Homo sapiens: one gene and its partner. The protein of the gene in region 1 purifies or fractionates together with the protein of each later gene. This does not show direct contact. Each region holds a gene or a part of one and is shown on either strand. Other genes may lie near its edges.

Region 1 (3,828 bases):
TTATGTTTAATGCATATATGAGGCAGGAAACTAAACTCTTTTTTTTTTGTGTTGATACTGAACCATTAGTTTGTGAGCAAAGCACATTATTAGCACTACTCATTGTCCAAGCAATTTGACTAGATAAGGTTTTAAATTATGCTTTACATACTAGACCACAAACATAAGGAATTGGTTAATGTTAGAGGTGGCTAGAAGATGAATACTTTATACAGACTTCTATAATGGTATGAATGCTATTCCTTCAACACATCAGAATAGATATGACTTCCCTTTTTGTTTTGCAGATACACCCTTAACTTTTTGAGCTCATAAGGAAGGTATCAGACTATCCCTTGGTATCAGTGTTAAAGGAATGACAATAAGTTTGTAGGACTTATGACTAGTTTCTATGAAATACAGATTCATTATATACATTTCTATATTTAATCAAAGAACTTGACAAAATGGAACAGCTGTATGTACATAGTACTTAACTTTTCCGTCAAAGTATTGCAATTTATCATTATGCCACTTGGGGGCATCACTTTACCATTGACATTTTGCATACAGGGTGACCTTTAATTACAATGTAAATACCATATTCCTTTACATTTTTATTCACTTTCTGAATTAGCTGTGAGATTAAAATAAAACCTACAGTACAGACATTACACTTGCTTGATGCATGTTTGGAGAGTTTTCTTCCTGGCATAAATATTGGGCATCCCTTTTTTCATTATCACAGTAGAATAAAATTAAACTGTTAAAATGTATGGTGAATGAGATAGAGGTTTTTCCTTTATTATGCATCATGAAATTCATAAAACAATATTTGAGAATATTTTCTTTCATAATTATAGACACTCTAGTCTAATTATGTTGTCATAGTCCTAAAAAGATTGTGCTAGTTCTTATTCATTTTATTTTATAGTATTGTTAAATTGTCAAAGTATCTTTTCAAAAAATCAAACCCAAAAGATTTGATCAGCCCAGAAATTACTTTGGCCCTTAACATTAGCATAGTGCATGTAATTTAATAGAAAAGAGATATTAAGGAAATAGGTTTACCCTAAAATACATGATTAAACTTGTAATTAATCATGGCCACAGCTACAGTGAATTTCAACATTCATCTTATCAGCATAGAATGTTGGTTATAATGATTTTTAAAAAATTTATCACATTTAAGATATAGTGATCTTACTATGCAGAGTTGATTTTATGCTGTTGTCTGTTTTAGTCTGTCAACTATGAAGTATTTAATACAATTTAAATTTTTTTTTTTTGAGTCGGAGTCTCGATTTGTCACCCAGGCTGGAGTGCAGTGGCGCGATCTTGGCTCACTGCAAGCTCCGCCTCCCGGCTTCACGCCATTCTCCTGCCTCAGCCTCCCGAGTAGCTGGGACTACAGGCGCCCGCCACCACACCCGGCTAATTTTTTGTATTTTTAGTAGAGATGGGGTTTCACCGTGGTCTCGATCTCCTGACCTTGTGATCCACTTGCCTGGGCCTCCCAAAGTGCTGGGATTACAGGCGTGAGCCACCGCGCCCGGCCACAATTTAAATATTAGACCTTTGCTTTGGACTCAGCACGAGAGAGGAAACTGAAGCAGTAGGAGATAAGGCCTAGCCTTCAGGTGCTTCCAGTCCGGAAGACTATATCAACACACATAAAACAACTAGTATACAGTACAAGACAATGCTTAAGTATCTGTGTGGCAGGTTGCACTCGGAGATGTTGGAGTGGCTACTCCCTTTCCAACTCAATATTATCTTACTTGTTTCTGTGTACTATCTAACTTATGTGTATTTTCCCCTTGGTCCTATCCAAGTGCGTATCCAAATATTTTACCCCTTAACTGTGATCGTACACCTTGGTCTTTGTCTAAATATGGGAAAAATGGTAACAAGGAAATGCTTTATCTCTACAGAAGGCATTTTTTCCCCCTCTATCTCATATGTCTGCCTGAGATAAGGATCAGGAGTTAAATAGTAAAAGGCCTACAAGTCCTTAAAGAAATGGCCCTCAAGTCCAGGCTCTTGCCTCCTCAGAGAGCTCTTGGGTCTACATTAGAGTAGATTTTTAAAAGTCCTAGCAAGCTGATTTTCTACCCAGTTATGGAAACAAAATGGAAGATAGGGGGCCAAGAGTTGATGCTAGAATGAGTCATACTGACAACAGAGGGGAGTGGTCTTAGACCATAAGAGTAAGGGAGGTAGAAAGTAAGAAAAAGATAATTAAAAAACCCCAAAAGCCAAAAAAGTCTGGGTCCATTGTTGTAAAGCTCTCCATACTCCAGTTTCTACTTATAGAAATCTCAGACGTCCAGCCCTGTTCCAAAGTACTGTATTGAGACAGACTCACTAACTGGCATGGAGTCAAAAGGGCTCAGGGGTTCAGCCACCACCCTGGGGTCCAGGCCTCAGCTTTTCATATTCATACACCCAGAGATGGTCAGTCTTGGAGAGGAGCTTATATTAACTAAATCAAGACAAGATAGATCTATAAACCATGATTCCACTTCTTAATCTGGTTCCTAGGATGAACAGTACCTCCTCCTTTGTGCACCCTCCCACCATTTTCTGGTAGAAGTTCTGGAGAAGCTGTATATCTAATGAGAAGTGAAAATATAACCAAAATAAGCAGGTGGAATAATTGGGCAATTACTCGCTTAAACCAGGTAAAAGGTCTCTTCTAAGAACTTGACAAAATGGAACAGCTGTATGTACATTCTAAGTGGCTATTGTTGTGGGAGCCCTAAGACCCAGTGTTTATCTACTAAATAGCTCTGGATGCACCCCCATACAAATATTCATAGGGTACCTCCTTTCCCAATATTGAAAGTAATGTGTATACACTTTATAAAAAGTTCAGATGTGCATAAAGAAGCAGTAAAATAATCTATAATCCTGCCATCCAACCTGTGGTCTTTTCTGTATGCACTGACAAATATTCAGTCTTTTAACGAAACATGGCATTGGTCCTAGTCATTGCCTCTGAGAGGAGATAGGAAGAGAAGGAGACTTCACTTTTCACTGAACCCTTTCTGTGCATTTGGAATTTTGTATCATGTGCAAGACTGAAACAAAACAAAACCTATAAAATAAAGTGAAAAAACCCACATATTCATTCAACAAATACTGGTCACCGTTTACTGGTCATCTGGAGCTTGAGTCTGGTACAGTGATTCTTAACCTTGGCCAAACAGTGGAATCACAATATTTAGAAAGTACAGATGCTTGAGTCATACTCCAGTGAATTCTGTTTGGTCTGGGGTATGGCCAAGGATTTTTGAGAACTTCCAGGTGATTCATATGTGTCACTAGACTTGAAATATCTCAACTGGAGATAAAAACTCTACTTACATAATCATAAATAATTTTAGCTGCAATAACTTGTGAAAGAAAAATCTTGGTTCTTGTGAGGTACAATAAACTCATCTTTGCTTGCAGGATGGAAGGTTGGGTGAGGCAAGGCTTCCCTGAGAACTGTGAGCTGAAATCTGAAGAATTATTAAGAAGTAGCCAGTGGTTTTCACAATTTGTTGAGCATCAGAGTTGTCTGGAGAGCTTATTAAAACAGATTGCTTGGCTCCCCCCTACCCCAGAGGTTTCTGATTTAGCAGGTCTGGTAGGAGGGGCCTGACAATTTGCATTTCTAACAGCTGTTACTACATCTTAGAGGACTGCATTTTGAGGATCCTTGTACTAGGCAAAGGGATGGGAGAAGAGTTGCATTCAGTGTGAATGGCACTAAAATGGAATAGAGTTCAGTGTATATACAATCTCACATGCTTTTTTAAAGCAGGAAAATATAAGCATTTTCCCATGTTAGTAAATACTCTT
Region 2 (3,828 bases), on another chromosome or scaffold:
AAAACAAAAAAAAGACCCACTAAATTCTATCTAAGCCCTGCTCTTCATAAATGTCCCAACACAGCTAGGGAAATAATGCTCATGAGAAGCTCAAGGATTACTAAACCAGCCTTCAAAAGTAATGATTTTCCAAGAAAGGGCCAAGCCTCCTGATGGACTATAAATGATTTAGAAAGCATGACCTTCGTGGCCATGCCTGTAACCCCAGCACTTTGGGAGGCCGAGGCGGGTGGATCACAAGGTCAGGAGATCGAGACCGTCCTGGCTAACACGGTGAAACCCCGTCTCTACTAAAAATACAAAAAATTAGCTGGGCATGGTGGCAGGCATCTGTAGTCCCAGCTACTCAGGAGGCTGAGGCAGGAGAATGGCATGAACCCAGGAGGCGGAGCTTGCAGTGAGCGGAGATCGCACCACTGCACTCCCTCCTGGGCGACACAGCGAGACTCAGTCTCAAAAAAAAAGAAAACATGACCTTCCTTTAATCCATAAAGCTACTTATGAATAAACTATTAAGCTAGTTACCAAGAGTTGCAAAAATGAAGACTTTACTAGAATGTACCAAAAACTTCAATTTGTATTCCACTAGTATATCCAGTTGCTGCAACTGGCAATGCTGCAAGCTCCTACCACATATGCATACTCAAAACGTAGAAGTCCGTAACTTTCAAGAGGGGCACTTGCCATCAGTGAAACTGTGTTGTCTTTAGTTGGTCTTCGTTTTCAATTGTCATTATTCTTGCCTTTTAATTAAATTACCATTAGGTTTGGCTCATCGTTATCAATTTAGTTTTTGGTTATTTTATTATAACTGTAGAGAATATATTGATACAATTCCATCACTAGGATTTGAGGCCTGCAGTTTTCTAATTAGTCTAGACTTTATGACAAGCATATTTTTTGTGATTCAATTAGGAACCATCCATATAGCTCTTCCCAAAAAATGCTTATACCTTGACAAGTGTTATTATTCCATTAGAAAGTAGAAATTATTGAGCTAAAGAATGACTCAGCCAAAAGGCTAGGACTAAAAAAGCTTGACAGGCACTGTTCTAAGGGTCCTCACTCTGGCTATGATGTCGCTAATGTACGGGCAAGTCTTAGCCCCAGCCAGCCTTTCCACATGAACCAAATGTGGCAAAAGAACTCAGAATCGGGATCAGTCATGTAAGCAGTAACTTCTTTGAACCTGGATGTCAATGATCCTTCCAGTGTCTAGTTTTGAGTGGGGAAAAAACAGCTTTTAGGAATGTATTTAAATGACTAAATCCCATAACAAACTCTCTTCTCAAAAATCTTTTCCTAGTTTATTTTTAAAACTTTGCCAAGTTCATAGACACAGCTTGCAACTAAATGCTGTTAGGCAAAGATCATCCTAGAAAGGTATAAAAAAGCATGAGGAAAATGTTTTAAGAACTGTGGATTCTTAATATCTGTTTCCAACTGTGGAATGGAATTAAGCTCCTAAAACACGCCTACCCTAATAAATCTTGTAACTATGGGTTATTATGTTAAAGATGGAAGGAGTATATGATGGCAAAGTAAAAACATTATGGTATAACATTTCAGGGAATTCTTAGCCAATTTACCAATAATCTAGTTACCATGCTAAAGTTAATATACTTCCTTCTCCAAATACTGAGATCCAGAATGAAAAGACAAACAAAATAAATAAGCACAATAGACTTACCAAAAATCAGGTAATGAGAAACAACGCTGTTGGGATTGCCATAACCAACAGACCTTAGGCAAGTCAACCTCTCTGATCACTCTTTAAATTTATTGAAGGAGAGGCCAGATCACTGATTGTTAAAATCTCTTCTGGCTTTCACAGTCTGTATTTTTACTACTATGTATTGGAATAAGTTGTTTCCTACTAGTAGATTAGGTACTTGAAAAATTATTAACTCCAACAGGTCACAAGGGTATCACTTTAAAGCAATTCACCTAATATTCACTGAACTTCGAACAGTCTGTGCACAGCTCTGTGGGGTCAAATGTCCCATTACCAGCTAATTCACCTGTTCCTATCTCCTGAGAATTCTGCTTATGCTCATAATCATTATCATAATTACATTTTAATTACAATCCACAAGTTTTTAAAACCACCTATTTCTAAGAAACTCATTTAGGGCCATTCCTCAAACTAAGTGAACTATGAGCACTTGTATCTCAGGGCTCCACTGAGAATCAATCCTTTGTCAGCCAAAAACAGTTTCTAAGCTCCTGCATTACTTCTGGTTGTTTCAACACAGATGTGAACCTCAAAATACTTTAGCAGATCCTTTCCTCCACAGATCTTAACTGCCTAAGGACACAGTAAGTCAAAGTTTTTACTTCTGGGGGAAAAAAAGGTATTTATGCATTTATTCATTCATATGTCATATATTCTACTTCCTGTTAATCCAGGATGGACAGGAGCCATAAATAAAGTACCACATGCTTATTCCAAAATCTTTAGTGAAATAATTCCTATTTATTAAACTGGCTACAGCTTGTTTTTCCCCAAGAATTCAATTAAGAATGTCTAATTTTTTAATTAGGCATTTGCAATAATAAGCTTTATCATTTTATCACTCTTAATAATTAAAAACACTTGTTTGTAAAAGGCAAGCAGAACACACAGAAAGATAATTGAGTTGAATTTTAGCAGTATGCTTTCTGCCTACACATTAAAGAATAAATTATTAAGACAGAATCCACAGACCCCCCAAGGATATTTGAACGTACATTTTTCTGATGAGATAGCACAACACTTTGAGGAGATGCTCAGAGAAGTTCATGACCTTTGACAAGCAATTTCTGCATTAGGGAATATACTTTAAGATTTTATTCTCAGAATACTTCAAAATAAGCTATAATGGTAACAATTCCCTAAATTCAAGGATTTCTCATGAATTATGCCAACATTTCTGGAAAAAATTTCATGTAAGACAAGAATGATCTAAACTAGATATTTCAAAATAATCTTAAAATTGTCAAATAGTTAACATTTAAGTTAAACACACACACACAACTGCACACCAAAGCTGATGGCACAAACCCACAAACATTCTAACAAGAATGGATCCATTAATACATGTGGTATTAAGATATTTAGAAGGCTTTTTAACAGAACGTGCCAAAAAATTAACCACGAACAGTGATATATTCACAAAGTAGTGTGTCCTAATTTCTGCTACAGCAACCGGCTTTGTTCAAGTTCTGATATAACATCTACAGTATGCCAATTACATGTTGTAGTAGTCTAAAAGATAAAGATAGAGAGATACAGATTTAGATATAACTTATTCTATAGCGCCAAAATTAGATTTCCTAACCGCACGCTTTATCCATGTGATTACCCTCACCTTATCCCTGAATGTTCTTTCTCTCTATCGCCACTTGTTTAAGTTCTACTTTCATTCTAAAATAATGTCAGTTCCCACTTAAGAGTCTCTACCACCAATTTTGGCACATGATCCAGTGTTGCTACATTCTGTTTCACATATGTACAGTCTCTTCAATTATATTATCCCTGCCCTACAGTAGCTTACTATATCTAATTTCTCGTGCCCAGAACAGTATAATGCTCAAGTCTCAAAATATATTTATATGAACAAATTTGCACCTCACTTGGATTAACATGTCTATTATTATACTTATCACACTGCATGGTAACAACTGGTTAAAAAAAAAAAAAAAGTCTAGGGATTTGCTTCAAAATAAAGAAGGAAGTGGATGGAGGTATGGATGAAGCAAGACTGACCACAAGTTAGTAACTCTTAAAGTTGGTGATGTGTGTATTATTGCTGTCAATTTTCCATAATACAAAGTTTAGAAGCTTGC

Evidence for each region.
Region 2: the proteins of NEK11 (region 1) and FAR1 purify together in Homo sapiens (affinity purification with mass spectrometry; one large-scale study listed by BioGRID and IntAct). This does not show direct contact.

Annotation. Positions count from the first base shown.
Region 1 is NC_000003.12:131,033,150-131,036,977, forward strand, and holds part of NEK11 (serine/threonine-protein kinase Nek11), read left to right. Parts: intron 1-2,523; exon of another isoform or gene 2,524-2,663; intron 2,664-3,828. UniProt on the Homo sapiens protein: Protein kinase which plays an important role in the G2/M checkpoint response to DNA damage. Controls degradation of CDC25A by directly phosphorylating it on residues whose phosphorylation is required for BTRC-mediated polyubiquitination and degradation.
Region 2 is NC_000011.10:13,674,910-13,678,737, reverse strand, and holds part of FAR1 (fatty acyl-CoA reductase 1), read right to left. Parts: intron 1-3,828. UniProt on the Homo sapiens protein: Catalyzes the reduction of saturated and unsaturated C16 or C18 fatty acyl-CoA to fatty alcohols. It plays an essential role in the production of ether lipids/plasmalogens which synthesis requires fatty alcohols.